Linked DNA regions of Homo sapiens: all the other regions are linked to region 1. The links come from fine-mapping of genetic effects on gene expression. A gene starts in region 1. Each other region holds a variant in brackets. All regions are shown on one strand. Distances are between the middles of the regions.

What was found.
Region 2: its variant is fine-mapped to the expression of TIMP1 in whole blood (TOPMed, PIP 0.97).
Region 3: its variant is fine-mapped to the expression of TIMP1 in whole blood (TOPMed, PIP 0.94).

Annotation. Positions count from the first base shown.
Region 1 is chrX:47,577,513-47,587,222 of GRCh38, forward strand. It overlaps TIMP1 (TIMP metallopeptidase inhibitor 1), which reads left to right and starts at 4,924. Exons shown (of 6, transcript NM_003254.3): 1 at 4,924-4,962; 2 at 5,896-6,024; 3 at 7,424-7,503; 4 at 7,693-7,819; 5 at 8,031-8,155; 6 at 9,009-9,277. The coding sequence starts at 5,904. The coding sequence ends at 9,179. The region is part of intron 5 of SYN1 (synapsin I); the gene reads right to left. RefSeq lists an enhancer at 1-232, a cis regulatory region at 1,934-2,454 and silencers at 2,068-2,241, 4,572-4,721, 4,782-4,881.
Region 2 is chrX:47,607,217-47,618,628 of GRCh38, forward strand. All of the region lies in intron 1 of SYN1 (synapsin I), which reads right to left. Among named protein-coding and RNA genes, the nearest start is that of SYN1, 6.9 kb to the right of the region's middle. The variant C/T (reference allele first, on the strand shown) is at 3,742.
Region 3 is chrX:47,594,908-47,606,319 of GRCh38, forward strand. It overlaps SYN1 (synapsin I), which reads right to left. Exons shown (of 13, transcript NM_006950.3): 4 at 10,316-10,472; 5 at 10,071-10,160. Among named protein-coding and RNA genes, the nearest start is that of MIR4769, 13 kb to the left of the region's middle. The variant T/G (reference allele first, on the strand shown) is at 8,325.

The DNA of each region.
Region 1 (9,710 bases):
AAGGCAGAGGAGACATGCTCAGGGCAGAAAGGGTGACCTCCAGGGGTGGGGCGGCACTGAGGGGATCCCAGCCAGTGGGAACTGCATTATGAGTCACTTCCCAGGACACACAGGTCAGAGACAGGCAGGCAGCAGCTGGGGGTCACACAGTGTCTCCACCTCCGGGCCCAGAATTGAACCCAGAGCCCTGTCTGTCTGTCCCTCACTCCACCCCACCAACAAGTTCCAGACGTCCCGCCCCTGCTTTCCCGGGCAGAGGCATGGTATGAGCGTGGGGGACTGTTCCAGTAAAAAGAAAGTTTGTTTTTACAGTGGATGGATGATAGTGAGGCAAGTGTGTGCCAGTGCGTGTGTGTGGGGGTGGGGGGGGTGGGGAGTGGTGGTGAGCATGTAGTGACTGAACCCCTCAGCCAAACCTTGTATGTAAGCCTCACCTGCACACATAAACTATTGAGAGGCATGAGCCCTTGGAACTCAGATGTACATCGCCAAACCCAGAGATGCCAGTGACATTGAGACTGACAGCCAACACAGGCTCAAAGCACATGAGCTCTGGAGCAGCACAGACACCCACACAGTCATTCAGCCAGCCAGGTGCCCATAGCGTGGGTCAGCAGCCAGCACTCCAGGGCAGCACACACTGGACACCCTTAGGCACACAATCAATACTTGGGCACACACCCAGGTTCCCTCCCCTCACCCAAACCCACATCACCATCAGGGGAACACACACAACACAAAAGATTACCCGTCCAATCAAGAGACACACAACTCCACAGGCACACTCCACAGAACCGGGCACATACTCAACACACAGGCACACATAAAACACCCCTAGGCAAATGCACAGCAAATAAGGCCCTACACAACACACAGAGGTGTATGCACTTCTAGGTATTCACATCACCACTGGGACCCGTAAGAGACCCACGCCACATTCCTGGGCATACAAAAAGTATATCTAGACACACACACAACATGCCTTGCCACATATACAATACAGAGAGGCTACACACAACCAGAGACACCCACAACTCAGTTTGCAGAAAACATTCCTGGGCACTCCCACCCCAACACACATACAGTCACACATTCAGGCGAGAGGGATACCTCAAGTCTCCCCCGCTCCTGGATGGGGTAGAGGAAACCAGGTTGGACGGCCCTAGGCTCCCCGCTCCCTCCACCCCCACCCCCACAGCACAGCTGCACAGTGCCCCTCTGGTGGCCCTCCCTCTCGCTGACAAGGTAGAGAGATGGCATTCCCGGAGGGGCTGCTGGGGCGGTGGTGGTTCCCAGTTCCCGACAGGCACAGGAAGCCCGCAGACTCAGGGTGACCGATTGACCTTAAGGCCTCCCTCTGCACACCCCCCCTTCCTCATTTCCCAAATGACTGGCGTCATTATGAGGTGGGCTGAGAGGCACGATGTTGGGACGGGGGTTTGGGGCATCTCTGGGCAGCGGGCCAGGGAAACGATGCCGAGGCGGATGCATACAGTACCACCCAGGTGTGCGCACAGCACACAGAAGTGCATAATGCACTCAGTTACATATGCAACCCAGATCCGCTTTGCCGAGGCTGGTAGACAACTCCCAGAAGTAACACACAAAACACACAGGCACATGCTCGACTCTTAGCAATGGACACACAACACACCAGAGAGCTGTGCGTACACACCCATACCTCCCCCAACAACCCTGAGGTTTCTAGGTGCCTCTTTTCGTTAACTGTCCTTGTTTTCTCTGGACTTGAGCCTGAACACAACGCTCTGTATATGTGTGTGTGCCCATACATGTGTGCATGCAGAGTGCTTTGAACTCTGACTCTGGGAGCTCCTGGAAAGCCCTAGGTCTGAATTTTGGCCTTTCTTCTTCCTAAGGCCATGAAGGACACAACCTCTCCCTGAGCCTCAGTTTCCCCATCTGCACAAAGAGCACAATGAGGCCCAAGCACCTGGTATGCTGTGGGCATTGTCAGGTGTCCGCTTTGCACATGCCTCCTGGACCCCCATGGGCCCCCACACCCATCCAGCTCCCCAGATGGTCACACACCCCTCCATGAACACCCCTCCCACTCTCCATTTCAAAACTGCACAATAACCGGATCCACACGACTCCTCATGTAAACAGTCGGCAACACTCTGTGCTGACTCAGGTTTCAAAGAGTTGGCGTCAGAACCAGAGTCAGCGAGGGGCCAAGGCAGGACTTCCCCTGCCCTCACTTCTCCCTCGGAGGCACCAGGTTACTCAGCCCCGTCTCATTCACTCTCACTGTCCCACTTTCATAATCAGCTCCTACAGATTTTTTTGGTTTACTTCCCTTCCTCCCTGTTTTTGTCGCCCCCCCACCCTCCCCCCACCACCCCGCAGCAGAGCCATTTCTTCATTCTCATTCCTGGGTAGGTCACTCAGCCCTTTTGTGTCTAAGTTTCCTCATCTGTATAATGAGAACATGAGCTATATCTAACTCACAGGGATATTGTGAGAAATAAGTTAGTTATTTTGGGAAAAATGCTCTACATGGTATCGGGCATACAGTAAGCCTCGATCCTCAAGAAGTGTTGGGTACTCTTATTATTGGCTTAACATCTCTTCCTTAACTAACATTAATGAACAAAGAGGCAATCGGGATTGATTAAATGAGATAATGTCTGTAAAAAGACTTTAGAACAGTGCTTTTTTTTTTTTTTTTAAATAGAGACAGGGTTTCACCATGTTGCCCAGACTGGTCTTGAACTCCTGAGCTCAAGCGATCTGCCTGCCTCAGCCTCCCAAAGTGCTGGGATTACAGGTGTGAGCCACCATGCCCGGCCAAGTGCTTTCTTAAAAAATAGATTTAGGCTGGGTGCCGTAGCTCACGCATGTAATCGCAGCACTTTGGGAGGCTGAGGTGGGCGGATCACCCGAGGTCAGGAGTTTGAGACCAGCCTGGCCAACATGGTGAAACCCCGTCTCTACTAAAAATACAAAAATTAGCCAGGCGTGGTGGCGTGTGCCTGTAACCCCAGCTACTGAGGAGGCTGAGGCAGGAGAATTGCTTGAACCCAGGAGGTGGAGGTTGCAGTGAGCCAAGATCTTGCCATTGCACTCCAGCCTGGGAAACAAGATCGAAACTCTGTCTAAAAAAAAAAAAAAGATTTAGAAGGCCGGGTGTGGTGGCTCACGCCTGTAATCCCAACACTTTGGGAGGTCGAGGCAGGTGGATCACCTGAAGTCAGGAGTTCGAGATCTGACCAATATGGTGAAACCCCCGTCTCTACTAAAACTACAAAAATTAGCTGGGGGTGGTGGTGGTGTGGCTGTAATCCCAGCTACTCAGGAGGCTGAGACAGGAGAATCTCTTGAACCCCGGAGGCGGAGGTTGCAGTGAGCTGAGATCGCGCCACTGCACTCCAGCCTAGGTGACAGAGCAAGACTCTTGTCAAAAAAAAAAAATAGATTTAGAGGGTACAGCTGCAGTTTTGTGACATGGATATATTACATAGTGGTGAAGTCTGGGCTTTTAGTGTCCCCATCAACCAAATAGTGTACATTGTACCCATTAGGCAATTTCTCATCCCTCACATTCCTCCCACCCAGAATAGTGCTGGATACGCAGTAAGCACTCCATAAGGGCTGCTGGTAGTTTTTGTTGTGTTCTTGTTATTGGGCTATCATCCCTGAGTTAATCAAACTTAATTAGCAAGGGAGTATGGTGAGTGAATGAGATAATTTATACAAACACTTTAGCACATAGTACACAGAAAGTGCTCAATAAGTGGCTGCCATCATCACTACAATTATTATTATTGATCTATCCTCCTCGAATTAAGGATGTTAATCAGAACCCCAGGGAAGGTTCCTGCATTGTCAGAAAGCTGGTGGGCAAGGATTGCCCCACCCCACCCCCCACCAGGGGTACAGGTCCATGGGGAGGGGGCAGGGCAGGATGGGGTGGGGATTAGTTTTCTACTGACCCACTCACTTGCTTCTTTCACCATCATTCATGGCCACCCCCTTCCCAATGCTCATTCATTCACCCGCACCATTCCCTGCTTGCTAGGACGGTGCCACTCCTGAGTTACAACCCTGGTGCCAGGTAGCCTCTGTTTGAATCCCGGCCATGCCCTGTGATCTTAGGAAAATTCTACAGTTCCTCTACGCCCCATATTTCCTCATCCGTAAAACGGGAATAAGAACCGGTACCCATCTCAGAGATTTGTTGTGAGCTTTGAGTGAGATAAACTATGCTGAGTGCCTGGTATACAGTAGGTGCTGTATAAATGCCGGCTATTTGCCTGTGTTATTTGAGACCCTGGCTTTGGCTCCTGGCCACCTGAGTTCCAGTCTCAGTTCTGCCATGTATTGACTCTGTGATCCTGGGTAAGTCACTTAACCACTCCGTGCCTCAGTTTCCCCATTTTGTATTCCTCCCCTTTCACCTGCCTTATCTCCCTCCACTGCTGCTACTTAATTTGTTTCCTCTCTGCCACCCCTCACCAGCATGTCAGACATACAAAACAAGGGATTTTTGTGTGCTTGGCACACAGTAGATGCACAATAAATGTTGAAGGGCTGAACTAATTTGGGTTTGAGTCATAGGGAGCTTGGGGGATGTGGGTGATTGGATAGATTCTGGAGACTTTAGGGGACTGGGCCGGGGGAAATGCGGCCTCTAAGCTCTCCGCTGAGGCGGCTTGGAAGGAATAGTGACTGACGTGGAGGTGGGGGAGGTGGCTGGCCCGGGCGAGGCCCAGGGAGAGGGAGAGGAGGCGGGTGGGAGAGGAGGAGGGTGTATCTCCTTTCGTCGGCCCGCCCCTTGGCTTCTGCACTGATGGTGGGTGGATGAGTAATGCATCCAGGAAGCCTGGAGGCCTGTGGTTTCCGCACCCGCTGCCACCCCCGCCCCTAGCGTGGACATTTATCCTCTAGCGCTCAGGCCCTGCCGCCATCGCCGCAGATCCAGCGCCCAGAGAGACACCAGAGGTAAGCAGGGCCCGGGGTGGCCCAGCAGGGACCGGAGCTGGGCTGCAGCTTGGGTGCTGGCCACCAGGCCCGTGCACTCCCGTGCCAGATGCCTGTCTACTCAGCTTGGCCTGCGGGTACCAGGACCCTGGGCTAGTCTAGGGGGAAGAGGGTCGGAGGCTGGAACTGCTTTCCCAACCCCGAGGCTCCAAACTCCCTAGAACCCCTGACATCCGCCCCCAATTCCCCCAAACCCATGACCCCCTAATATCACAAATGCTTTCCAAATCCCCCCGCAAATTCCTTCATCCCGAAATTTCCCTCATCGCCCCCTAAATACCCACCGCTAACCCCTGCAGCTCCCTAAACTCCCCCAGCTCCCCAATCCCCAGTTCCCCAGCTCCCAAACTTCTTTTGCCCTCAAATTCCTCAAGTATCCCCATTGCCTTAAGCCCCCAAATTCCCCCAACCCCTTCAACCTCCAAACTCCCCCAGCTCCCTAAACCCCCAACCTCCTCCAAATTCCTCAACCTCCCTAAATTCCCCCAGCCTCTTATATCTCTTAATATACACAACCCCTAAACTCTGCCGTCTCCAAACTCCTCCAGCCCCCAATCCCAAATTCCTCACCCCCAAACTCCTCAACCTCCAGAATTCCCCAATCCCCTCATTCCTCAAACTTCCTCAGCCCCCTTCTCCCCCAAGTGCCACAACCCCATAACCCCGCAACTCACTCAGTCCCTCAATAATTTAAACTCTCCCAACTCTCTAAACCCTAAATTCCTCTGCGCTCCCCAATCCCCTTAAAATCCCTAAGCTTACCAACCCCTCAAGCCCAAATCCAGCCCCCTAATCCCCCCCATAGGCTGCCCCGGGGCAAGATGGGGTGGATGACCTGCCCAGGTCAGCAGATCAGCTGGGCCGGGGCCTGCCTGACATCCCCCTTCCCCACAGAACCCACCATGGCCCCCTTTGAGCCCCTGGCTTCTGGCATCCTGTTGTTGCTGTGGCTGATAGCCCCCAGCAGGGCCTGCACCTGTGTCCCACCCCACCCACAGACGGCCTTCTGCAATTCCGACCTCGGTGAGTCCTCACCCCACTCAGCCCACACACTCTGCCTTGGTTTCCCTTTCAGTCCAGTGGGGCTCACCATGGCACTTACCTCTAGAATGATTCCACTCGCCCCTGCACTTCCTCTGCTTTAGCCACACTGGCATCCTCACACTTCCTTGAGTACTCTGTGCCCAAGCCCACCACAGGATCTGCATGCTGGCTGCTCCCTCTGCCTGGTACACTTTCCCCCCAGGTATCCACATGGGTGGCTGCCTCAAACGTCACCTTCTCAGGATGGCCTTCCCTGGCCATCCTGTTTAAAATTTTAACCCCTGCCCCTTAGTACTCCTGATCTCCTGTTAAACAGAAAAATATTCAGTGATACTTGTTATAACACAGTAAGGAAGACCATATTCAGGACCATGGTGATGGGTATAGGAACCACTGCAATGGGATCTTGCAGTCGGTGGGAGAGATTGGGCTCAACACTGAATATAGCATGGGCCAGTGGGAATGTGTAGCTAAGGAGCAGTGTGAGGGTCTGTGGGTGGAAATTACTAAGAAGAAACATCAGGGGTAAGGGGGATTCTGGCTAAACCGACGTAACAGGATTCTTGCTGAAGGCAGGCCAAGGGGAATCAGACATCACCTGGGGGATGGTGGAAGATGAAGAACCCAGTCAGATAGCAAGGATGATCAGGTATTGAGGATGATCAGAGATTGAGGATGATCAGAGATTGAGGATGATCAGGTATTGAGGATGATCAGAGATTGAGGATGATCAGGTATTGAGGATGATCAGAGATTGAGGATGATCAGGTATTGAGGATGATCAGAGATTGAGGATGATCAGATATAGAATATAGGGGTTCTTGCTAAACTGACTTAGCAAGGCTCTCGGCTAAAACTGGATTTTACAAGGAAGTGCACAGATGGGCCTAGGAGGAGGTTCAGGAGCCTGAGTAAAGTTTGGTCAAGCAAAGAATCTTTGTCAGCCCCTTACCCAGGTCTGTAATTCCCCATTATACTTAATGTCTAACATTCCATATCCTTATTTTGTTTGTTCTTAGCCTGTCTCCTCCTGGCTAGAATGTGAACTCCACAAGGAAAGGGATTTCTGTGTTTTGTTCACTGTTGTGTCCCTAACACCCAGAACAATGTCTGGCACACAGTGGGCACTCCCAAATATTTGAGGAGTAAATGAACAAATCAATGTATGAAAATGGCTTAAGCAGTGCCCGGCAAAGAGAGACACTCAACATACAGATGAATCAATGAACAAATGTGTAAATCACTTTGTGTGCTGTCTGGCATCCAATAACCCCTATTTATGTATGCGCTTTGCTGGTATGATGATGATGATGATGATGATCTTATTTTTATTGGCTCATGCAGTCCATTTGACTCATATTTCCCTCCTCTCCTGCAGTCATCAGGGCCAAGTTCGTGGGGACACCAGAAGTCAACCAGACCACCTTATACCAGCGTTATGAGATCAAGATGACCAAGGTATCCCCTGCCCCCGCCTCTTTCCCAGCATTTTCTAACATCTTCCTCCTGGTCAAAACAGAAACTTCTGGCCACTGGTTGGTGCGAGAAAGTTGGCTGTGATCTTGGGATGCTATATGACTTCAGGGAAGAACCTGGAGTGGGAGGATTATGTCAGTAAAAGAGACACTTCCCCTCATCCATCAACAGATGTATAAAGGGTTCCAAGCCTTAGGGGATGCCGCTGACATCCGGTTCGTCTACACCCCCGCCATGGAGAGTGTCTGCGGATACTTCCACAGGTCCCACAACCGCAGCGAGGAGTTTCTCATTGCTGGTGAGGCACCGTCCCCGCGCCCTGTGCCACACCAACCAGTCCCTGGGGCGCGGCCTAGCAACCACGAGGGGGCGAGGCTCTGATGGGAATGGTCCCACTGGAAATGGGGACCACCCCAATTTCAGTCTATCAGAAGGCCGGGCCTTTGGCAGCTTGGCAGCTCAGCCAATCACAAGCTGCTTGTCGGTCCCCGCCCCGCCTTTCTCCTTAGGAAAACTGCAGGATGGACTCTTGCACATCACTACCTGCAGTTTTGTGGCTCCCTGGAACAGCCTGAGCTTAGCTCAGCGCCGGGGCTTCACCAAGACCTACACTGTTGGCTGTGAGGAATGCACAGTGAGTGCCTGGACCCTGACCTCCAACGGGAGATCCTTCCCGGGGCCATTCCCTAAATCGTGGGCTTGTTTCTTGCTCCCTCTGGCTATTCTGTGTCCCTGTGGCTGCTCCCCAACCCTAAGGGCTGTCCCTGATCTCTCTTGCTATTTCCCCAAGCCCGAGACTGCTCCCTTACAAATTCTGGCTGCTCCCTTTCCCTGTGTCCAATACCGTGTGATCACCTGTCCCTCCCTGGTCCCTCTAATTCTCCCTTGTGACTATTCTGTAATCCCACTCCCCGTTCCTGAGCCCCCGGGATTGTTTCTTGGTTCCCCAGAATGTTCTCCAAGAACCCAAAGTGCTGTTCCCTAATCCCACTGACCCTTCCTCAGCACATCTGCTTGTTGCTCTGCAGCTCTGACTATTCCAGACACCAGAGGGTGTTACACTGACCTCCTGGCTAGTCCAAGCCTGTTCCCTGATGGCTCCTGATGGCCTCTGAGCCCAGTGACTATCTTGAAGCCCCACTGGCTATTCCTGTGCTTAAACTCCTTAGCCGCCAACCGGGTGGGGCCCCTTACTACTGCCAGTTTTTCCCTGTCCTTTGGGACAATTCCACAGGCGACCTGCCTGACTGACCCCCAGGGCCTATTCCCCAGCCACCATTCCAGGACACTGATTTACTGGCTTACTGTTACCTTTCAGGACCCAGTGACATTTCCCTCAATGGGAGGGGCTGTCCTGGGGTATGTACTTAGGTGGGGTGAGAGCAAGTCTCCCCAGCGGCTCAGTGTTGAAAGCTGAGGAGAGGAAGTTCTGCTCCACGGGGGAGGCAGGGAGAAGCCCTCAGAGATGTTTCCCTCCTCCCTTCCAGGTGTTTCCCTGTTTATCCATCCCCTGCAAACTGCAGAGTGGCACTCATTGCTTGTGGACGGACCAGCTCCTCCAAGGCTCTGAAAAGGGCTTCCAGTCCCGTCACCTTGCCTGCCTGCCTCGGGAGCCAGGGCTGTGCACCTGGCAGTCCCTGCGGTCCCAGATAGCCTGAATCCTGCCCGGAGTGGAAGCTGAAGCCTGCACAGTGTCCACCCTGTTCCCACTCCCATCTTTCTTCCGGACAATGAAATAAAGAGTTACCACCCAGCAGACACTGTTTCTGTGTAGTGCCTGGGAACAAACCCATGTTGCTGATGACCTGGTGTGAGCACCCTGGGACCAGTGGGGATGAGGGATGCCAAATGTTGGGTTTTTATATTTTACTTAAATTCTGATGTACTGGTAGTAATTCTCAACATTGGCATTAGCACTGATGATCTGCAACAGCAGCAATGGTCACTGAACCTGCATTATCAACCGTAACCTCTGAATAATTTCTCCAGCCAATACTTTAAAACATTTTCCTATACTGATTCCTAATTGCTATTTGCCCAGGGCTTTCTAGTTATAAATTATCCCACAGCTGACAAATCACTGCCTTACTGGAAATTCCCCATTCACACATCTTGCCAGCTGACAGAGTCATTGACAAATGCCCTACCAATTGGCAAATGACTATCATTGCCTCAAGCACAGTCCTGAT
Region 2 (11,412 bases), 31 kb after region 1:
ACATCTGTCAATGATGAAATCTCAGAAGGGAAGACAAAACACAGGCCCTTGACCCTTTTGCCCCTTCAATGCTACTAAAGAAACCACAAAGTGCCTTATAATTATTGAAATATTTTGAAAAAATCAAGAGTGCTTTGTGAATAATGTCTGTTGTAATCCTCATGGAGTTGCAAAAATATTAAAGGACATTGCAAACTGTAAAATGTGGCCTTACACTGCAGAGAGCAGGTATTTCCCAAAATTTAGTCTGCTCATCACATTGTCATTGTAAATTTTTTAAAAAAACTTCACAAAATTAGCAGCACTATGTAAATTAGAACATACTTTGAAATTGCATGGAGACCGGTAAACAGCAAAGAACCTTAGAAAACACCTATCTGGCCAGGTACGGTGGCTTACGCCTGTAATCTCAGCACTTTGGGAGGCTGGAGGTAGGAGGATTGCTTCAGGCCAAGGGTTGGAGACCACCCTGGACAATATAGAGAGACCCCCATCTCTACAAAAAAAATTGAAAAAAAAAAAAAAAAAACAAAAGCCGAGGGCTGTGGCTCACGTCTATAATCCCACAACTTTGAGAGGCCAAGGCGGGTGGATCACCTGAGGTCAAGAGTTCGAGACCAGCCTGACCAACATGGTGAAACCCCTTCTCTACTAAAATACAAAATTAGCCAGGTGTAGTGGTGCATGCCTGTATTCCCAGCTACTTGGGAGGCTGAGGCAGGAGAATCACTTGGACCCAGGAGGCGGAAGTTGCAGTGAGCCAAAATGGTGCTATTACACTCCAGCCTGGGCAACAAGAGCGAGACTCCATCTCCAAAAAACCCAAAAAACAAAAACTAGCCAGGCATAGTGGTGCATGCCTGTAGTCCCAGCTACTGGGGAGGCTGAGGCAGGAGAATGGCTTGAGCCCAGGAGGTCGAGGCTGTAGTGAGCCGTGATTGCACCACTGCACTCCAGCTTGGGGAACAGAGCAAGACCTAGGCAAAAAAGAGAAAGAAATAAAGAGAAAGGAAGGAAGGAAGGAAGGAAGGAAGGAAGGAAGGAAGGAAGGAAGGAAGGAAGGAAGGAAGGAAGGGGAAGGAAGGAAGGGGAAGGAAGGAAGGAAGGAGAGAAAGAAACTACATTTCTCTGAAGCGTGCCTGTTTTTGTGTATTTTTTAGTGCCTGTGTATATGTCAGTGCCTGTGTCTGGCTGTGTGGCCTGAAGCATCTCTCTGCTCTCTGGCCCTTTCGCAAGGAGGAGCACATTCACCATGTGTGGTTGTGTGCTGTGAGAAACACAATGGCCATAGGTGGGCAGCTGCATCCGATAAGGAGGAGTGGATTGAGTGGTGCAGGCTGGGTGGCTCTAGAGAAGCCAGTGTAGCTGGCAATGATGGGGGGCAGGGAGGAATGCAGCTGAGGAGGAGAGGGAGCAACAGGAGGGAGGGGGAGTGGGAGCAGCAGTAGGAACATCACGAACTGCTATGTCATTGTCCCCGGGCCCGTCCCCAGCTGGGCTTGGTTTCCGGTGGCCTCCTCCCCCAGGCTCAAGATTTCTAGCCAACAGGCTGCTTGCTCCAGGGATGGAAGCTCATCCTCAATCAGGTTTATCATGGAAGGGGGATGAGGGGGAGAGACACTTTCAGGGCTACTGGTCACTGACACACATACAATCAGGGTCTTGGACAGACACACACACACACACACACACACACACACACACACGGCACAAATGGACCCTGGTGACTTGACTGACATATGCAAGAGACCCCAAGTACAGCTACTTCTTTTTCCTTGCTCTCTCTCTGACACACACACACACACACACACACACACACACACCATCGCTGACACTATCCCCTCAGAAGTGTTGAGAGAGAATCTCTCTCAGCCCTGCACATTTTTCATCTATAAACTGATGAGTGGGGATGATGAGGGTGTATCACTGTTTCTAAAACTTTTCTGACCATAAGTGTAGTTGGATACTGTGGTGGTCTGCTCAGGCCTCCTCTTCAGGGACAATGTACCTTGAATGGCAGCTACTGACAGCTCATGGCTGTGTCCCCACTGGGAATTGTCTTGTCACAGGGAACTGCCTTGTCCAAGGTTACACCTACTTCATGAGGGCATCCCCATGGTCTGGTCTATGAAGGGAAAGAAAGGCCAGCCTCCTTGCCTCAATCTGGGCTGACTCTGAAGGACCCTCCCAGCCCCAGGGCTCCCCCTAAGAGCAGCGGAGGCCCCTAAGGCAACTACATCTTGAGCCAGCCTCTTCCTCTGCTCAACCCAACCCTCCTCACAAGTGTTGATCCCAATGGCACACTCCAGTAAGCCTCCTGCATGCAAATCTCCACCTCAAAGTCTTTTTCCAGGGAACCCAACCTAAAACAGTGGGCCATGGAAGTCAAACTACAAGGGTGGTCTAATGCAATTCTGGAGCTGGGTTACCCAGCAGCCAGATGGCAGTGAGGACCCATCAGTAGTGGGAGGTGGGGCATAGATAGCCTCCGATATGCTGTAGCAACGCAAAGTGCTCTGCAGCAGGTCCGGGCTGTGGTGCAAGCAGGATGTGACTTAGGCCATATGATCCAGCAGATCCTATGACACTGGAGGTGTCAGTAGTAGGAAAAGATGCTGTGTGGAATTTCTTCTCCCAGGTGGGAGAATACAGCGCAGGCCCCCAGGGTTTTGGAGTAGCGGTGACTTTTCCTGATGGTGGGCTGTAATGGGATTCTGGTGGAAGGGAATGTACTGGATGGTGAAATATCCCTGGAACTTGAGTGATGTCAGGGAAATGGTAACCAGACTTGGGTGACTATTCCCTAAACGCCATTGAGTAGCTGAAGAAAGACCTGACATGCTCAGGGTGAATTCAAGGCAAAATGTGAAAGCCAGAGGATCTCCCTGACTGCATTTAAGGAAACCCTCATCTCCTGCAGTCAGAGGGCAGACAGAAGGGAGGGCCAGGCTCAGAATTTAATTCTACGTGGTGGCGGAGCTTCGGAGAAAGTTGACTTCTCAGGCCCAGCACATCTCCTGGGCCATGCTCATGTCCCTAATAGGACAGGAGTAGGACTCTGAGATGGGGATATCTGGGCAGATGCAGTTAAACACCTTGAACTTACAGACTCACCTGCATCCACTGGGCCTGCTGAAGTAGACTACTCCCCTGAGTTAGAATATAGACCTTCTGCTTGAAGATAATGCAGAGGCCTCGGATGATGCAGGTGCTTTGTAAGACAATGCCTGCCCCCCTCAGAGTCTACCCCCCACCTACCCTCCTGGAAACCAGACCAAAAATTAGGGTGAAATCCTAGTGAAACCTGACTGGACAGGTTCTAGGCTTGCAAAGGGAGAGAAATGATCTGTAGAAGAACCTAAAGAATCTGGCTAGTACGTATTGGCAGGAGCTGGGAAGGTATGCATGAGACTGGATCCTGAGGACAATGGGCGAAGGAGGTAGAACAGGAAGTTGGTGTGCTCTCCCAGGATACGGAACTTAAAACCCTGGCGAGGACTCTAGGAAGTGTTACTAACACACTGGTATTTGGAAACCTGGAGTAAACAATGGCCCACACTAAGTGAAGCAGAACTTCCATGGCAGATTGCACAGGGAAGGATTAAAGGGCTCAAAGAAGCAGACATGTTGGAGTAGATATACTACTGAAGTCTGGAAAACCCACCAGCTGATTAAGGCCTGGAGGATACACTCAACTTATGAAATTAATAAGAAACATGCTGGTGAGGGTGGTACCAGTCA[C/T]GCTGAGAAGCACAGTAGTGGTAAGGTGATAAATGAGTCCTGGCCCAGGTCCTGCTTACAGTGGGTCTGGTGGGTCTAGAGACCCACCCAGTGGTCACTTCCTCAGTTCACAAATGCGTAATTGCAATGGCATACTTTGTAGTTGTCAGAACCCCTACATGGGCTCCTCAGCCTGTGGGATAAGAGCTGTTTCAGTAGGGAAGTCCAAATAGAAGCTTCTAAAATGGCGCACACCCCCATGCCCTGAACAAAACAATAAACCACAAACAATATTGTGTGCATCCTATGGGTGATGATGGAAATCAATGCCACATTGAAAGATCTAAAGGATGCAGGGGTGTTGGTCTCATCTTATCTCCATCGAGTTGAGCAGTCTGGCCCCTGGAGAGGTCAGATGGGTCCTGGAGAATGCTTGCAGATTACTGCAAGCACAATCAAGTAGTACCCTTAGTTATACCTGCCATACTGGACACGCTGTCATTGCCAGAGCAGATTAATAAGACCTCAGGTACAGCAGGTGGCTGCTGACTTGGCAAATGCATTCTTTTTTATTCTGATTAGAAAAAAGGATCAGAAACAGTTTACACTCACATGAGACTGATGATAATATTCATAGATGGTCTTGCTGTAGGGCTATGCTATCTCTCTCACCTGGTGTCATAATATAGTCCAGAGAAACCTGGACTATCTGGACATCCCATGGAATAGCACACTGGACCACCACATGGATTACATCATACTGATTGTGCAAGATGAGCAAGAGAGGGTGAGCATATTGCCCTGGTAAGACACATCCACTACAGAGGGTGGAGGATAAACTCCACAAAGACTCAGGGGACCGATGCATTAGTAAAATTTTTAGGAATCCAGTGGTCCAGGGCAGTAAACCAGGACAGCCCCTCCAAAGAATAGAGCAAAGCATTGAATCACGCACCTTCCACCATGAAGAGGAAAGCACAATACCTAGGAGGCCTCTTCCCATTCTGGAGGCAGCATGTCCCCCACACACAAATAATGCTCTGACCCATATTCCAGGCGACATGTAAAGCTACCAGCTTTGTGTGAGGGCCAGAGCAGAAAAGGGCTCTGCAGCAGGTCCAGGCTGTGGTACAAGCAGTCCTGCCATTTAGGCCAGATGATCTGGCAGATCTTATGATACTGGAGGTGTCAGTAGTGGGGAAAGATGCAGTGAGGAGCTTATGGGAAGCCTGAGTGGGAGGCCCTTGGGGTTCTGGAGCAAAGCCATGCCATCTGCAGCAGAGAATTTTACGCCTTTTGAGAAAGACACCCCATTGAGGTGCTGGGCCCTGATAGAGACAGAATGCTTGACCAGGCACCAAATGATTGTGCATCCAGAAGTTCCCATTATAAGCTGGGTCCTGCTGGGCCCGCCAAATAATAAAGTCAGGTGGGCCCAGCAGTCAGGATTGAGCCCAAGCAGAACCAAGCAAGGTGCATGAGCAGGTAAGTAACCCTGATCCCCATGTCTTCCACACTGTTGTGCTAGTGCCTGTCTCACTAAGGGGACTCCTTAAAACTAGCTGATGAAAGAGGGAAAGGTCTAAGCTTGGTTCACAAATTGGTTGTCTTAGTATGTGGGTGGAAGCCAAAAATGGGCAGTGGTTGCACTATAACCCAACTGGAATGGCCTTGAAAGACAGTGGCAGAGCTCCCAGTGGGCAGAGCTTCAGGCTGTGCACCTGCTCATCTCCTTTGTGCAGAAAGAGAAGTGCCTCAAGATTAGAATACATATATCCACTTATGGGCAGTGGTAAATGGTTTGGCTGGTTGGTCAGGGGCCTGGAAATAAAAAGACTGGAAGATCCAGACAAAGAGGTCTGGGATACAGAAATGTGGGCAGACACCTAGGAGTGGGCAAGAAATGAGGAGTGAGACTGGGCGCGGTGGCTCACGCCTGTAATCCCAGCACTTTGGGAGGCCGAGGTGGGCGGATTACCTGAGGTCAGGAGTTCAAGACCAGCTTAGCCAATGTGGTGAAACCCCATCTCTACTAAAAATACAAAAATTAGCCGGGCGTGGTGGCGCACGCCTGTAATCCCAGCTACTCGGGAGGCTGAGGCAGGGGAATTGCTTCAACCTGGGAGGTGGAGGTTGCACTGAGCCAAGATCGTGCCACAGCACCAGCCTGGGCAATAGAGCGAGACTCCGTCTCCAAAAAAAAAAAAAAAAAAAAAAAAAGGGAGGAGCGAGGATCTTTGGATCGTGTGTTAACACCCACCAGACAGCATCTGCCATGGCGCCATGGAAGTGACACTAGGCAACCAGGTAGACAGCATGAGTCAGCCCGATGATGTCAGCCAGGCTCTAATCAGCCACCCCAGTGTTAGCAGATGGGCACATGAATAAGTGGCAATAGCAGCAGAGAGAGAAGCTATGTGTGGGGGCAGCAGTGTTACTGCTGAATGTCCAATCTGCCAGCAACAGAGACTAACATTGAATCCCTGACACGCCACCATCCCTCCAGAAGGCCAACCAACCACTTTGTGGCAAGCTGATTAGATTGGGCCCCTTCCATCCTGCAAAGAACAGTAATCGATTTTGACTGGAATATTCCATATTTGAGTTTGCCTTTTCTTACTGCAGGACCTCAGCCAGCTCACTGTCTAAGGGCTTACATAACGTTTGATCCACCAGCACGAGACCCTGCATAACACTGCGTCAAACCAAAGGACACACTTTATAGCAAAGTAAAGGAATGCAAAGCAAAGGAGGTGCAAAAGTGGGCCCATGACCATGGAATTAACTGATGGTATTACACACCACGCCACCCGGGAGCTGCTGGCCTGATGGAATGATGGAACAATTTGGTGCAGCCACAGCTAAGATCCCAGGTTGAAGGTGAGATCATGCAAGAATGGGCACCATCCTCCAAAACAGTGTCAACCCTAAATCAATGGCCATTGTAGGTGCTGTGTTCCTAACAGGTAGAATACACCGGTTTGGGGACACAGAGGTTAGGAAGGAGTGGCCCAGCTTACCAGCAATCCCAGTGATCCACTTTTGAAATTGTGCTTCCTGTTCCCTCAGGGCTCTGCAAGGTTAGAGGTCCTGGTTCTCCAAGGGGGAACACTGCTACCAGGGGACACAGCAAGAATCCCATTAAACTGTAAGCTATGATTGCCCTCAGGGCACTTCGTGTTTCTCATGCCAAGGGACATAAAAAGGAGCCATTGTCTTGGCAGGGGACGTGACCAACCTTGCTCCTCAGGAGGAGGTAGAGCTGCTGGTACACAGTGGAGGCAGGGAGGAGTATGTCTGGCACCCAGGGGATCCACTTGGGCATCTGTTGGTACTCCTTGCTCAACTTTGATAGTAAATGGGAAATGTGGTTGTTTGTACAGCAGCTACAGCCTGAGAAGGGCATGGGGACCAAAGGCTCAGGGATCTCTGCAGGATGGGAGCCACCCAGACCAAGAGTGGTGCTAGCTGAGGGTGGGGGGAATCTAGAATGGGTAACAAAAGAAGGAGAGGATGAATATCATTTATGACGTTGAAATCAACTGCAGCAGCAGAGACTATGGCTCATCTCACTACCGTGCTCTTTCAAGTGTCCCTGAGAAAACAAGACCGATTAGAATTCTGGAAATGCCGTTCCCCAATGGGGTGAACTTACTATAAGAAGGAAGTGGATCGGAGCAGTGCAAGGTGTGGACTATATGCTCCCCCCAGATCCTTACCTCCTTGTTCCAGACCTTTGCATCTATCCTCAGCTTCTGGAATTATCCGCTGCTGATGGCTCATAGGTGTCCCTCACTGGGCATTGGCCTCTGCAACAGGGATTTGCCTCACCCAAGATTACGCCTCCTCCCAGGGGGCAGCCTACAGCCAATGACTGACATAGGAATTCAAAGCCTGGCCACCCCGCTTCAACTGGGACAACTCTGAAGGGTCATTCCAGTGCCAGAGCTCCCCAGAGGATTGGCCGAGGCCTCTTTTGTGGTTGCATCACAGCTCAACTTTTCCCTCTGCACAATCCTGCTTCCCTCACAACCTCCCCCACAGGTGTTATTCCCAAGCGCTCTCCCCAGTAAATCTGCATGCAAATCTCAGAGTCTCGGGGTCTGCTTCCAGGGAAATATATCTGAGAAAAGAAGCCACAGTAAGAAATAAAGCTTATATAACCCACTATATATGTATTTGCATAATAACTCATCCTATATATGTATTATATAAGACACATATGTTGTACAGCAAATATGAGAATATAGAATGTCTTATATATTATGTAACATATAAAATGTTGTATATTACATATTATGTGTATATGTATTTAGAATGTATATAAATACATATGCATAACTGGAATTAAAGTTTCAATAGATAATTACCTTTACTATGTGTAATGCAGTCTGATTTTTCTATGCTATTTTATTTCATTTCATGAAGAAGAACATATACATATAGATGTATTATGTACTGTAAAGCCATTGTATAACACATGTATTACATACCGTATGTCATATATAATATACATTACAGATTGTATATCTTAATGGAATAACATTATATGTTTTGCTAAACAACAACTCCATTTACTATGTGCAATATGCTCTGTTATTCTCTATTTTTATTTATCCTACTTCAAGAAGAAAGTGAAATGCTGGTCATAAGCCAATAGGTGACCCATAGTTTGAGAAACACCAGAGAGCCGGGCACGGTGGCTCAAGCCTGTAATCCCAGCACTCTGGGAGGCCGAGGTGGGTGGATCACGAGGTCAGAAGTTTGAGACCAGCCTGACCAACATGGTGAAACCCCATCTCTACGAAAAATACAAAAATTAGCCAGGCATAGTGGCATGTGCCTGTAGTCCCAGCTACTCAGGAGGCTCGCTTGAACCCAGGAGACGGAGGTTGCAGTGAGCCGAGATCGTGCCATTGCACTCCAGCCTGGGCGACAGAGCAAGACTCCGTCTCAAAAAAAAAAAAAGAAAGAAAAACACAGGACAAAATTACCCACAAAATGGGGGAGATGAGTCTCAACTTAGAGTTTTCAACTTTAAACCACAGAGGAATTGAGACCCAGGAAGGAATGAGGGTGGTGAGGTTTGGTGGAAAAGGCGTCAGACTGTATTTCGGTGTACATTCCATCACAGAGTTTGCACAACTCCTGCTTTATTTGGGGCTGAAATCCCTGAAGCTAGTGTGGTTCTGAGTGTCTGCAAGTTGGTAAAACAGGTCTCTGTTCCCCACACTGAGCCTGGCGTACATACATAGGCTCTGTCCCTTTGTCCACCCCACCCCACATATAGTAGACACTAAATAAATATTTGCTAGATTGCCTGGAAGAAAAGACTGGAGGGGATGCTGGGATAAAGGGGGGCTTCTGAGATGCAGAAGGGGAAGGGATGGATCTTTCACTGAATTCAGCAGGTGCTCAATAAATGTTTTCTGGACAAAGAAAAAATGGAAAACATTGAATTTGTGATTATGGAAAGGGGAAGGGACTTGTCAGTATTCCATAGATAATAAATGCTTGATGGAAAGAAGGAAGCAGACGCAAAGGACCTGCATGGAGGGCTGGAGTGGAGACCGGAAGTCTAAAGGAGGGTGATTACCTATATCCAGCAGAGGCCTCATTGATGTTTGCTGACTTCAATGGAGCAAACTTAACCAGGAAGATAACACGTTGGTGAGTGGACGTTGGTGAAGGAATTACAGCACGTGCTCCATAAATGCTTTACAGATTGATAGAGAAAAAAGCGGAGAAGCCTGCTGCAGGGATGATAATGTGGCTGTTTGAAAATAATACAGTAAGAGATTAATAAGTGTTTTCTGGACTAATTCGGGGAGAAAAAGGCAGCTGGGGAGATGGCTACTAAGTGGAGGAAGAGGCCTAGCTAGAATAAATGGAAAACAGTGCACATTGTGAGCTTTCAGGATTGTGTTGTGTAAAAGGCAGGATGGAGATTGTTGAAGGGGGAATTGGGACTACAAAAAGGGGAGAAGAGGCATTTAACGCAGGGTTCTCAGTAGTATACGATAAATGCTCATTAAATGATTGTGGGGTTGCATGGAGGAAAAGGTATAGCAAGGCCAGCTGGCAGGTGAGGATTTCAAGCACACCTGCATTTAGAAAAAAAAGAAGGAAGGGGAGCTGAAGAAGGGTTATTCCTAGTATATAATGGTGCATAATAAATGCCTCCCACACTTTCATGGAAAGGATGCAATAAATATCTGCAGAATGAATAAATTGCTCTGAATGGAGAGAAAGGCTACTCGGTAAAGGCTCCTGGGGGAGAGGTAATCTAACCAGTAAACAGCTGGTACTCAATACATTTAGGCTGAAGTAGACCCCTAGAGAGAGAGCTCTTGAGGCAGGGTCAGGGATTTCCAGAGACTTGGAAAGAGGAAGTTGAAAGTGACTTATACAGTAAGTGCTCAATAAGTGTTTACTTAAATAGTAAAACTATTAAGTAAATAGTAAATTTAGTAAATTTACTAAATTTATTTAGTAAATTAAGTCAATAGTAAAACTATTAAGTAAAAGTGTTTACTTAAGTAAGTGTTACTTAAATAGACTAAAAGCCCTTTGGGGGTATGAATTAAAGTTGGTAGAGGGAATCCTAGGGGTACTGAAGGGAGTGGGAAAGGGGTGATCATTATAAACTCAGCTCTGGATTTATCACAGGAAAGGACCTTGGGAGAGGCCTTGTGATTGGAACAGGCTCTCCTAGGGGTAAGGAAGAAGAATGTACTCCCCAAAACAACAGGTCCTGCATATGTGCTCACTGGATCTACTGTTAAGAAAACAATTCTGGGGAGGAGGTGTGAATATACAGAACACACAGAAGACACTCCATAAATGCTCAGGGGAGCCATTGGAAGAAAAGGTCTTTGGGGGAGGATGATTAAAATGGAGCACATGACAGACAAGGAATAAATGCTCACTGGATCCATTAGAAGAAAAGGCCTTTGGGGAGTGGGGCTGGGGATGGACATATAGTCACCTGATCAAGGCTCACTGCATCCCTGAAGGAAAAGTCCTATGGGGAGGGGAAATGGGAGTGCAGAAAGTTGATCTATGGGAGCTCGATTCTTCATCCATAGGAGAAAAGGCTTTTGTGAAGAAGGCACACAATCAGGTACACAGCAGGTGCTCCATAAATACTCCAAGGAGTGATTAAAAGAAAAGGTCTTTGGAAAGAGTGACTGGAATGGTACACACAGCAAGTGCCAGATATCTGAGCACTGTATTAACTGGAGGCACAGGCCTTTATGGAGAGGTCTAAGGTTGGGTCATGCAGAAAGTGCTCAATACATGCAGACTGAAGCCACTGGAGGAAAGGGTATTGCAGAAAGGGTTTGAGGGTGGGGTATACAGCAGGCACCAGTCAATGCATGCTTGCTGAATACACTGGAGGAAAGAACTTTTAGAGAAGGCTCACACTGCAGGCAGTTGATAAATGCTAGATGGATCCACCAAAGGAAAGGTCTTTGAAGAAGTAGCTGGAGAACGGGGGATACAAGAGGCACTCAATAAATGTTTTCTAGATCCACTGTAGGGAAAGGTCTTTGAGGAGACGGTCTGAAGATGAGTCACACAAAGAAGGTTCAAAACTGCTCATGGAACTCACTGGAGGAAAATGATTTGTTTGAGAAGGGGTTTGGGGGTGCGGCACGTATCAGGCACTTAACAAATGCTTCCTAGATC
Region 3 (11,412 bases), 18 kb after region 1:
GTAGGTACGGGGTTTCTCCATGTTGGTCAGGCTGGTCTAGAACTCCCGACCTCAGGTGATCCGCCTGCCTCAGCCTCCCAAAGTGCTGGGATTACAGGTGTGAGCCACTGCGCCTGGCTGTCCCATCACATTTCTATACAGTTATAAATCCTGCCTATGCAATGAAGTCTCCATGAAGGGCTGAAGAGGATGGAGTTGGAGAGCTTCTGGATAGCCGAACATGTGGGGTTCCTGGAGGGTGGCTACCTGGGGGTGGGGCATGGAAGCTCTGTGCTCTTTCCCACATGCTTCGTCCTCTGCATCTCTTCATCTGTATCCTTTGTAATGTAATACTCTTTACAATAAACCGATCATGTAAATAAGTGTTTCCCTGAGTTCCATGAGCCACACTAGCAAACTAATTGAACCTGAGGAAGGGGTTGTGGACCCCGATTTATAGCTAGTTGGTCAGAAGCACAGGTAAAATAACCTGGGGCTTGCCATCAGCATTAGAAGTAGGGCTTAGTCCTGTGGGACTACACCCTTAACCTGTGTGATCTGATGCTATCCTCCAGGTAGATAGTGTCAGAATTGAATTGCAGGACATCCAGCTGGTATATTAATTTGCTGCAGAATTAATTGCTTCTTGGTGTGTGTGTAAAAGCCTCCACACATGGTATTGTGAGAGCAGAAGAAAAAACAGTTTGATTCTTCTACTCACACACATATAACAATTTTATATATACACATATATGAAATTATATATATATACATAAAGAAATGAAATGTCCTAGCTGTGTACAATGAGAGGGCCTTGAAGCAAGAACATTCCAGTAGCAATGAGTAAATCTAGTTCCCAGATCTTGGCTTTGAAATACTATTATCTTTGGGCTGGGGCCGGGAAAGAACAAGATATGCCTGGAGGTGATGTCAGCAGAAATGTAAGAGCCTGTCTTCTCCTCCTTAAAATTGCTTAAAAGCAATGAGAACACTGGCAAAAATTGTCAAAACAAACTTATCAGAACTCTGGAAATTGACCAAGGTTTACAATTCAGAAAGCATTTTTTCAAGAAAATGGCTGAATCTTGGTAACAACAGGAAGCTGTGGCATTTGAACTTCTCTTGTACACATCCCCTTCTCCTCACCTCCACAAGAGCCTTGAAAATCAACAGCCCTGCAATTCCAGTGAAAACCAGCAGACTAGCAACCATTGGAGGAGGCAGAACAGGGTTGGAGTTCCTCCAAAATCTCATTTCCAGAGAACTGTCTTTATTTGATCTGTCTGGCACTATCCTGAATACTCCACTCATGGGGCTCATCTGGTATAAACAGCTTTCTCTGGGGGTGCTTTTCAGAAACAATTAGCAGCAACTGTTTAACACAGCAGTGATAACATTTAGGAAAAAACAACAAGCTTTTCAAGAAAACTTAAAAGGAAAATCTAGGTAATTATATATCCATTATCAGTCCATTATTAGGCTTTAAAAAGCTCTGACATATGCCTGGGAATCTAGAAAACCACAAATACGCATAAGGCTGTATGTATGCCTAGGATCTCTGGCTGACCTCAAAACTCTGCACAAGCAGGAAATGAAGGATAAGGCAAAGTTGTAAACAGCCTGCCTTTGCATTAAAGGCACACCCTGACATGCACATAGAGCCCATCAGCAAAGTCTGGGAGACTTACTGGTTTCAGGTGATTTAAAGAAATATCTGTCCAATCATTAGCTGACCACTAAGCTAACGGAGCAGAGACTTGGGTAGCCACATATGACAAAGAACACAGGCTTTACAGAATTAGTTCAGGAAGGTCACTAAAAACAAAACAAAGCAATAAAAACAAATCCTGAGGAGGGGAGAGAACCTGATTCCCAGAGTTGCCACATTATATTATTTAAATGTCCAGTTTTCAACAAAAATGTATGAGAGATGCAAAGAAACAAAATTAAGTGTGGCCCAAACACAGGGAAAAAAGCAGTCAAACACTATCCCTGAGGAAACCCAGATGTTAGACTTAATAGGCAAAAACTGTAAATCAGTGATTTTTAATATTTTCAAAGAACTAAAGGAAACTATGTTTAAAGAACTTAAAGGAAAGGATAAAATGATATCCTAATAAGTAGAGAGTATCAATAAAGAGAAATTACATGAAAAAGAAATTCTGGGCCGGGCATGGTGGCTCATGCCTGTAATCCCAGCACTTTGGGAGACTGAGGCGGGTGGATCACCTGAGGTCAGGAGTTTGAGACCAGCCTGGCCAATACGGTGAAACCCCCCTCTCAACTAAAAATACAAAAATTATCCAGGCATGGTGGCGTGTGCCTGTAATCCCAGCTACTCGGGAGGCTGAGGCACGAGAATTGCTTGAACCTGGGAGGTGGAGGTTGCAGTGAGCCGAGATTGTGCCATTGCACTCTAGCCTGGGTGACAGGAGTGAAACTCCATCTCAAAAAAAAAAAAAAAAAGAAATTCTGGAGATAAAAAGCATAATAACTGAAATGAAAAATTCACTAGAGGGGATCAACAGTAGCTTTGAGCTGGCAGGGTAAAGAATCAGTGAATTTGAAGACAGGTCAGGTGAGATGATCCAATCTGAGGAACAGGAAGAAGAAAAGTAAACAAAATGAACACAGTCCTAGAGGTCTGTGGAACACCATGAAGCATATGAACACCCACATAATGGAAGTCCCAAAAGGAGAGAGAAAAGAGAGAAAAAAAGGTGCAAGAAAGACTATTTGAAGGAATAATGGCTAAAAATCCCCCCAATTTGATTTAAAGCATTAATCTATGCATTCAAGAAGTGCACTGAACTCCAACTAAGATAAATTCAAAGAGATAGGCACCCAGACACATCATAAACTTATAAAAGCTAAAGACAGAGAGAATCTTGAAAGTAAGAGAGAAGTAACTCATCATATACAAGGAATCCTCAATAGGATTAGCAGCTAATTTCTCATTAGAAATCTTGAAGTCAGAGGGCAGTAGGACAACATATTCAAAGTACTGAAAGAAAAAGACTGCCAAACAAGAATTCTACATCCAGCAAAATTATCTTTCAAAAATGAAGGAGAAATTAAGACATTCACAGATAAACAAAAACTGAGATAGTTCATCACTAACAAACTTCTACAAAAAATGCTAAACGGAGTCCTTCAGGGTGAAATAAAATGATACTAGCTAGTAATGTAAATCTACATAAAGAAATAAATAGCACCTGTAAAGTTAACTACATAGGTAAATATAAAAGACAGTATAAATGCATTTTTTTGCGTGTAACACTTTTTTACTCCTGATTTAAAAGACAACTGCATAAAGCAATAACTATAACTATGTTCATGGGCACACAATGTGTAAAGATGTAATTTGTTTGACAATAATAGCACAAAGGAGGGATGAAGGAATAAAGTTATATAGAGGCAATTTCTTTGTATTACTGAGCTTAATTTGGTATTAATTCTAATTGGAGTAATATAAATAATGATGTTAATTGTAATACCCAAGGAAACAACTAAGAAAAAAAAAAAACAGGCTAAGTGCAGTGGCTCATGCCTGTAATCACAACACTTTGGGAGGCCAAGGTGGGTAACTTGAGCTCAGGAGTTTGAGACCAGCATGGGCAACATGGCAAGGTCCTGTCTCTACAAAAAAATTAAAAATTGGCCAGGTGCGGTGGCACACGCCTGTAATCCCAGTACTTTGGGAAGCCAAGGTGGGCAGATCACAAGGTCAGGAGTTCGAGACCAGCCTGGCCAACATGGTGAAACCCCGCCTCAATTAAAATACAAAAAAATTAGCTGGGTGTGGTGGCAGGCACCTGTAGTCCCAGCTACTAAGAAGGCTGAGGCAGGAGAATTGCTTGAACCCAGGAGGTGGAGGTTGCAGTGAGCCGAGATCGTGCCACTGCACTCCAGCCTGGGTGACAGAGTGAGACTTTGTCTCAAAATAAATAAATAAATAAATAAATAAAAAATAAAAAACTAAAAATTAGCTGAGCATGATAGCACATGCCTGTGGTCCCAGCTATTCAGGAGGCTGAGGCAGGAGGGTAGCTTGAGCCCAGGAGGTTGAGGCTGCAATGAGCCATGTTCCTACCATGGCACTCTGGCCTGGGTGACAGAGCAAGACCCTGTATCAAAAAAAAATAAAAATTTTTTAAATTAAAAAAATGAATAAAAGACATAGGGAAGAAATAACAGAAAAATTAAAAATGGTACACTAGAAAATATCTGTTTAACTTAAAAGAAGGCATTACTAGAGGAATACAGGAACAAAAAATAAGATATAGAAAACAAATAGCAAAATTGCAAACATAAACCCTACCTTATCAGGAATTACAATAACATAAGTTAATTAAACACTGCGATTAACCCTTTTCCTGTTTAGGAAAAAAAAACGTGCAGCTTGCTGCCTGTGCTCACTAGATTTTATATAAACATGCTCTTTGAGGCTGAAGCAAAGCTAACTGATTTTCAATGTCAAAACAAAATATAAAAACTATTCTTGGAGTTATTTCTAAGCTGAACTAACATCAGAATCATCTGAATCATCAGAATCATCTGAATCATCAGAACCATCTATTTTGGAAAAATCAGATTCATCAAATGATTCTTCATCCAACGACTGTTCAAGAACGATGTTAACATCATTTGTAGGGATGTTACATTTTCTAGGATTTGACATTTTCAATGATTGAGAATTACTATATTTTGTAAGTGGAAATACCACTCCTAAAAACAGAATGCTATAAATAGAATGATGTCTTTTGTTTCCAAAGTCGATATACTAGAGTGATGTGAAAATAATAATAAAAATGAGACAGTTTGTGGCAAAGTTATCTCAGGGTAAACACTGCAGCCGCAAGTGCCATCAGAGAGTGTTCTCAGCACAAACGGTAAAGGGTTAATAGGCACAGTGGATGAAAAACGTGACTTAATTATATGCTATCTGTAAGAGGCACATTTTAGATTCAAAGACCCAAATAAGTTGAAAGTAAATGGATGGAAAAAGATTTACCATGCAAACAATAGCCAAAAGAGAGCTGGAATAGCTATACTAATATGAGGTAAAATAGAATTTAAAACAGCAATTGTTACTTGAGATAAAGAAAAATATTTTATAAGCATAAATGGTCAATCCATCAAGAAGATTTAACAATAATAAGTATATGTGCACCTAACAACACAGCACAAAATATATGAAATAAAAACAGGCAGAATTGGAGACAGAAATAGACAATTCAACAATTATAGCTGAAGACTTCAATATCTCATTTAAAGAAATGGGTAAAACAACTAGACAGGGAACCAAAAAGGAAGTTTTTTTTTTTTTTGGAGACGTGGTCTCACTCAGACTGGAGTGCAGTGGTGCAATCTCAGCTCACTGCAACCTCCACTTTCTGGGCTCAAGTGATCCTCCCACTTCAGCCTCCTGAGTAGCTGGGACTATAGGCGTGTGCCACCATGTGGCTTTTTGTGTGTGCATGTGTATTTTTTGCAGAGTTGGGGTTTTGCCATGTAGCCCAGGATGGTCTTGAACTCCTGCACTCAAGCAATCCACCCGCCTCAGACTCCCAAGGTGCTGGAATTAGAGGTGTGAGCTACTGTGCATGGCCAATAAGGAAGATTTGAAAAATGCTATAAACCAATTAGACCTCATAAACATCTATAGAACACTTCACCCTACAATGGCAGAATACACATTCTTCTTCAGTGCACATGGAACATTCTTCAGGACAGACTATATGTTAAGCCAGAAAACAAATCTCAGTAAATTGAAAAGGACTGAAATTATACAAAATATGTTCTCTGACCACAATGGAATGAAATTAGACATCAAAAACAGAAGAAAATTTGAAAAATTTACAAATATGTGGAAAGTAACACACTCCTAAATAACCAATAGGTCAAAGAAGAAATCACAAGTGAAATTAGAAGATACTTTGAGATGAATGAAAATGAACACACAACATATCAAAATGTAAGGGATGCAGTTAAAGTGGTGCTTAAAGGAGAATTCATAGTTGTAACTGCCTATATCTAAAAAGAAGAAAGATATCAAAATCAGTAACCTAATCTTCCATTTTTTTCTAGGAAATTAGAAAGAAAAGAGCAAACTAAGTCCAAAGCAAGCACAAGGAAAAACATAATAAGAGTAGAAATAAATGACATAAAGAATTTTAAAAATAGAGAACTAATAAAACAAAAATTTGGTTCTTTGAAAAGATCAATAAAATTGATAAACCTTTAGACTAAGAATAAAAAAGGGCAGAAAATTCTAATTACTAAAATCAGGAATGAAAGAGTGGACATACTACTGACCTTACAGAAATAAAAAGTATTATAAGAGAGTATAAGAGAGTACTGTGAACAATTATGTGCCAGTAAGTTAGAAAACCTAGATGAAATGGACAAATTCCTAGAAAGACACAAACTACAAAAACTGACTCAGTAAGAAATGGAAAATCTCAATAGACCTATAACAAGTGAAGAGATTGATTTAGGAATAAGTAAAACTTCCTACAAAGACATACCCAGGACCAGATGTCTTCACTGGTGAATTCTACTAAACATTTAAAAAGAATTAATACCGACCAGGCATGGTGGCTCACACCTGTAATCCTAGCATTTTGGTAGGCCAAAGCAGGAGGATCGCTTGAGCCCAGGGGTTCAAGACCAGCCTGAGCAACACAGCAAGACCCTGTCTCAAAAAAAGAAAAAAAATTAATGCCAATCTTCACAAAATCTTCCCAAAAATAGAAGAAGGAACACTGTCCAACTTATTCTATGAGGCCAGTATTATCCTGATACCAAAACCAGAAAAAGACATCATAAGAAAACTACAGAGCAATGTCTCTTACGAATATAGATACAATAATCCTTAACAAAATAATCACAAACTAAATCCTACAACATACAAAAAGGATTTATACCAAGGCCAAGTGAGATTTAGCCTAGGAATGCAAATGTCTACACCTAGACACATCATAAACAAACTTATGAACGTATCAACTTGCATGAAAATCAATTAATGTACTACATACCATATTCATAGAATAAAGGACAAAATTCACACAATCATGTCAATAAACACAGAAGAAGCATTTGACAATGTCCAACATCCTTTCACGACAAAAATACTCAACCAACTAAGAATAGAAGGAGAAATTTGTCAACACTGAGGTAGCAGTTAATATATGCCAGATGCATTGTTCTAGACACCTTACATTTACTAAGTAATTTCATTCTCACACCAACTATATGAGGCGGGAACTATTATTACCTACATTTTGCAGATGAATAAACTGAGGTACAGGGCGTTTAAGTAACTTTTCCTGTGTTAAGCAACTAATAAGTTGTGGAGGTAAGATTCTTATACAGAAATTCTGGCTACAGAGTCCATGCTCTTAATCACATTCTGCTCTACTGTCTCTCAAAGAATGTAGACTAATAATAATGATAAACAAATTGGGTTTCCTTAAAACTAATGATTCAAGCCGGGCATGGTGGTTCATGCCTGTAATCCCAGCACTTTGGGAGGCCGAGGCGGGCAGATTGAGACCATGCTGGCCAACATGGTGAAACCCCTTTTCTACTAAAAATACAAAAAGTAGCTGGGCGTGGTGGCACGCACCTGTAGTCCCAGCTACTCGGGAGGCTGAGTCAGGAGATTCGCTTGAACCCAGGAGGCGGAGGCTGCAGTGAGCTGAGATTGTGCCACTGCACTCCAGCCTGGCGACAGAGCGAGACTCCTCCTCAAAAAAAAAAAAGAAAAACTAATGATTCAATCTTTATCTGTAAGTAAACTTAACTTACAACACTGTTGACGTATATCAGTGATCATAATTTGTAGTACTGGTAAGAATTGCTAATATTAGTAGCAATGTTTATTTAATCAAGTTGATAGTGTTGGGTCAATATTTATATTTAATTGTAATTTTAGTCATAAAATTGGTGATGATCATTTATATGAGTAAACATAATTTGTAATATTGGTAAAAATTGACAAAATTACTTATACAATTTGATTGCATTAGTAACAATTATTTAATTTCTATTTGTAACTAAAATTTGATTCATAACTGTGGTACTCATAATTTATATTAGTAATCAAAATTTTAATATTAGTGATTTTTTTTATAATAGCAGTTAGAATGTTAACCATATTAGTAATTATTTCTATTAGGAACTACAAGATAATTCAAAACACAGGTACTCATGGGTTATATTAGTAATCTTAATTTGTAACACTGGTAATAGTTATATCTGTAAAAATTTTTACACTGTTTGTACTAATGGTTTAATTTTATTTACTTATTTATTTAATGTTTTGAGACAGGGTCTCACTC[T/G]GTTGCCCAGGTTGGGATGCGGTGGTGCTATCATGGCTCACTGCAGCCTCAACCTCCAGGGCTCAAGCAATCTTCCCACCTCAGCTTCCCAAGTAGCTGGGACTACAGGTGTATGCCACCATGCCGGGCTGATTTTTAAATTTTTTGTAGAAATGGGGTCTCGCTATGTTGCCCAGGCTGGTCTCAAACTCCTGGGCTCACGAGATCCTCCCACTTTGGGTTTAAATTTTTAAAAAATAATTATAACAATTTACAACATAAGTACTAATCATTTATAGTAATAAACTTAATTTGTAACACTGTAATGCATTGTAATATTAGTTGTTATATTTGATGATATTAGCAATGATAATTCAATTTCTATTATTTAAACGTTCAGCATATTTTATTCTGGCACATTGTAGCCCAATGACCCAACTGTGGTAGTCTCCACTGCATGCCATGTTTATGTAAGTCAAAACAGGTACTTATAATTTATATTAGAGCATAATTTGTAATAGCAATAATCATTTGTAATAACAGCAATAATCTTTGATGCTATTAGTAATGATTATTCAATTTCTACTAGAAACTATAATTTAATTCATGACATAGGTACTCATAATTTACAACAGTAAAAATAATTTATAATATTAGTGATAATTTGTAATATTAGTGATTATATATATATATATATTTTTTTTTTTTTTTTTTGAGATGGAGTTTCGCTCTTGTTGCCCAAGCTGGAGTGTAATAGCGTGATCTTGGCTCACCACAACCTCCGCCTCCCGGGTTCCAGCGATTCCCCTGCCTCAACTTCCCAGGTAGCTGGGATTACAGGCATGCACCACCACGCCGGGCTAATTTTGTATTTTTTTAGTAGAGACAGGGTTTCTCCATGTTGGTCAGGCTGGTCTCAAACTCCCGACCTCAGGTGATCCGCCCACTTCGGCCTCCCGAAGTGTTGGGATTACAGGCATGAGCCACCGCGCCCGGCCAGTGATTATATTTCATAATAGTAACCAAAAGTTCAATTTCTATTAATTAATTAATAGGAGGGAGGCTGAGGTGGGACTCTGTTGCCCAAGCTGGAGTGCAGTGGCGTGATCTCTGGTCACTGCAACCTCCAACTCCCGGGTTCAAGTGATTCTCCTGCCTCAGCCTCCCAAGTAGCTGGGACTACAGGCACGCACCACCATGCCCAGCTAATTTTTGTATTTTTAGTAGAGACGGGGTCTCATTATGTTGACCAGGCTGGTCTTGATCTCCTGACCTCATGATCTGCTCACCTCAGCCTCTCAAAGTGCTGGGATTACAGGCATGAGCCACCGTGCCTTGCCAACAATTTAATTTATAACATTATTATTGATAAATGTTATTGGCAATCCTAATTTGAATATAGGTAAAATTTCTATCAGAAGGAATATTTGATAATGTTAGTAATAATGACTTAATTTCTATATGTAATATATTCTGATTCATTACATTAATTCTGTCAATTCACATTAGAAATAGGTTTTTAATACTGGCAAAAATAGACAACATGAGTAACAGGATCTGATACATATTAGAATGGATCATGATTTAGTTTTCCTTGTAAGCATAAGGAAATTCACGGTAGACCCTATCACAAAGCAACTTCATGACTCCACGTGCACACAGCAGCCACACTCTTGATATCGCACTGCTGATAATATACCAATATTTAATATTATTGCAGTAGTTATGACTCTTCCCTCCTGCCCACTCTATTTTCCCCAAACTCACCATTTCTTTGTGATTGGGGTAGAAGGTCTGATCAATTAGAGGGAATTCTTCTGTCCCCAGTTTCTTATGCAGTCGAACCATCTGGGCAAACTATGAGAACCAGGAGAGCTGGGTCAGTGAGTCCTTCACCACGAATCTGTAAGTTTCTGAACACCCTCACTTCCCCAAATCGCAGACTGGTTTCAAGCTCCCACATACATGCATGAGCTGTTCCCTCTGCCAGTGGCACCCTTCCTGTTACTTACCACCCAGGGCTTGTCACAGAAGTTGTAGACAGAATGCAAGGAGTTAACACTGGGGATTCCAGCATACTGCAGCCCAATGACCAAACTGCGGTAGTCTCCGTTGCGTGCCATGCTGAAGGCGTGCTGGCGGATCAGCACAAAATCCGGCTTCAGAGACCTAGTGTGGCAGGGGTAGGAGTGTTGAGAGTTCCCCCAGAAGCTCCCAATCACTCTCGAAACAAAGACCAAGTTTTTAAATCTCCATAGCTCCCAGAAATTGCAAAGTGGTTTCTCACCTCTGCACACATGTGTGAGCTGTTCCCTCTGCCTAGTGCACCCTTTCTACCCTCTGCCCACCTGGTGATCCCCTTTAAGCCTCTCCTACCTGTTCCCTTCTCAGCAAGGTCAGCTTGCAGCTTACCGACACAGCTCTGACAACTCCCTGGTCACCATCTCTCAGACTGCAAGCTGTCTTCAGTGTTCTGCCCAGAATAAATTCTAACCTTGGGACCTTTACCAAGGCTGTTCCATCTGCCTAAAGCACTTCCCCCCTAGATATCTGCATGGATCACTCCTTCACCTCCATCAGGTCTTTCCTCAAATGTCTCTCCTGCAACCAGGCCACCCTATCCCAACTGCAGACCCCACCATCATCCAACAATTGCTACATCTGCTTTAGTGCTATATATATATTTTTTTCTTTTTTTTTTTTCTGTTGAGACGGACTGTTGCTCTGTTGTCCAGGCGCTGGAGCAATCATGGCTCACTGTAATCTCCGCCTCTCGGGTTCAAGCGATTTCCCTGCCTCAGCCTCCCGAGTAGCTGGGATTACAGGCACCTGCCACCACGCCTGGCTAATTTTTTTATTTTTAGTAGAGACGGGGTTTCACCATGTTGGCCAGGCTGATTTTGAACTCCTGGGCTCAAGCAATCCACCCACCTTGGCCTCCCAAAGTGCTGGGATTATAGGCATGAGCCACCACATCCGGCCACTGTTATGTTTTTTCTTAGCACTTTTACATTTTCTTATTTATTTGTGTATTGTGTGTATCTCACAGTAGAATGTAAGTTTCATAAGGCCCAGGTTCTTTTTCTTTTTTTTTTTTTGGCCTTTCAGC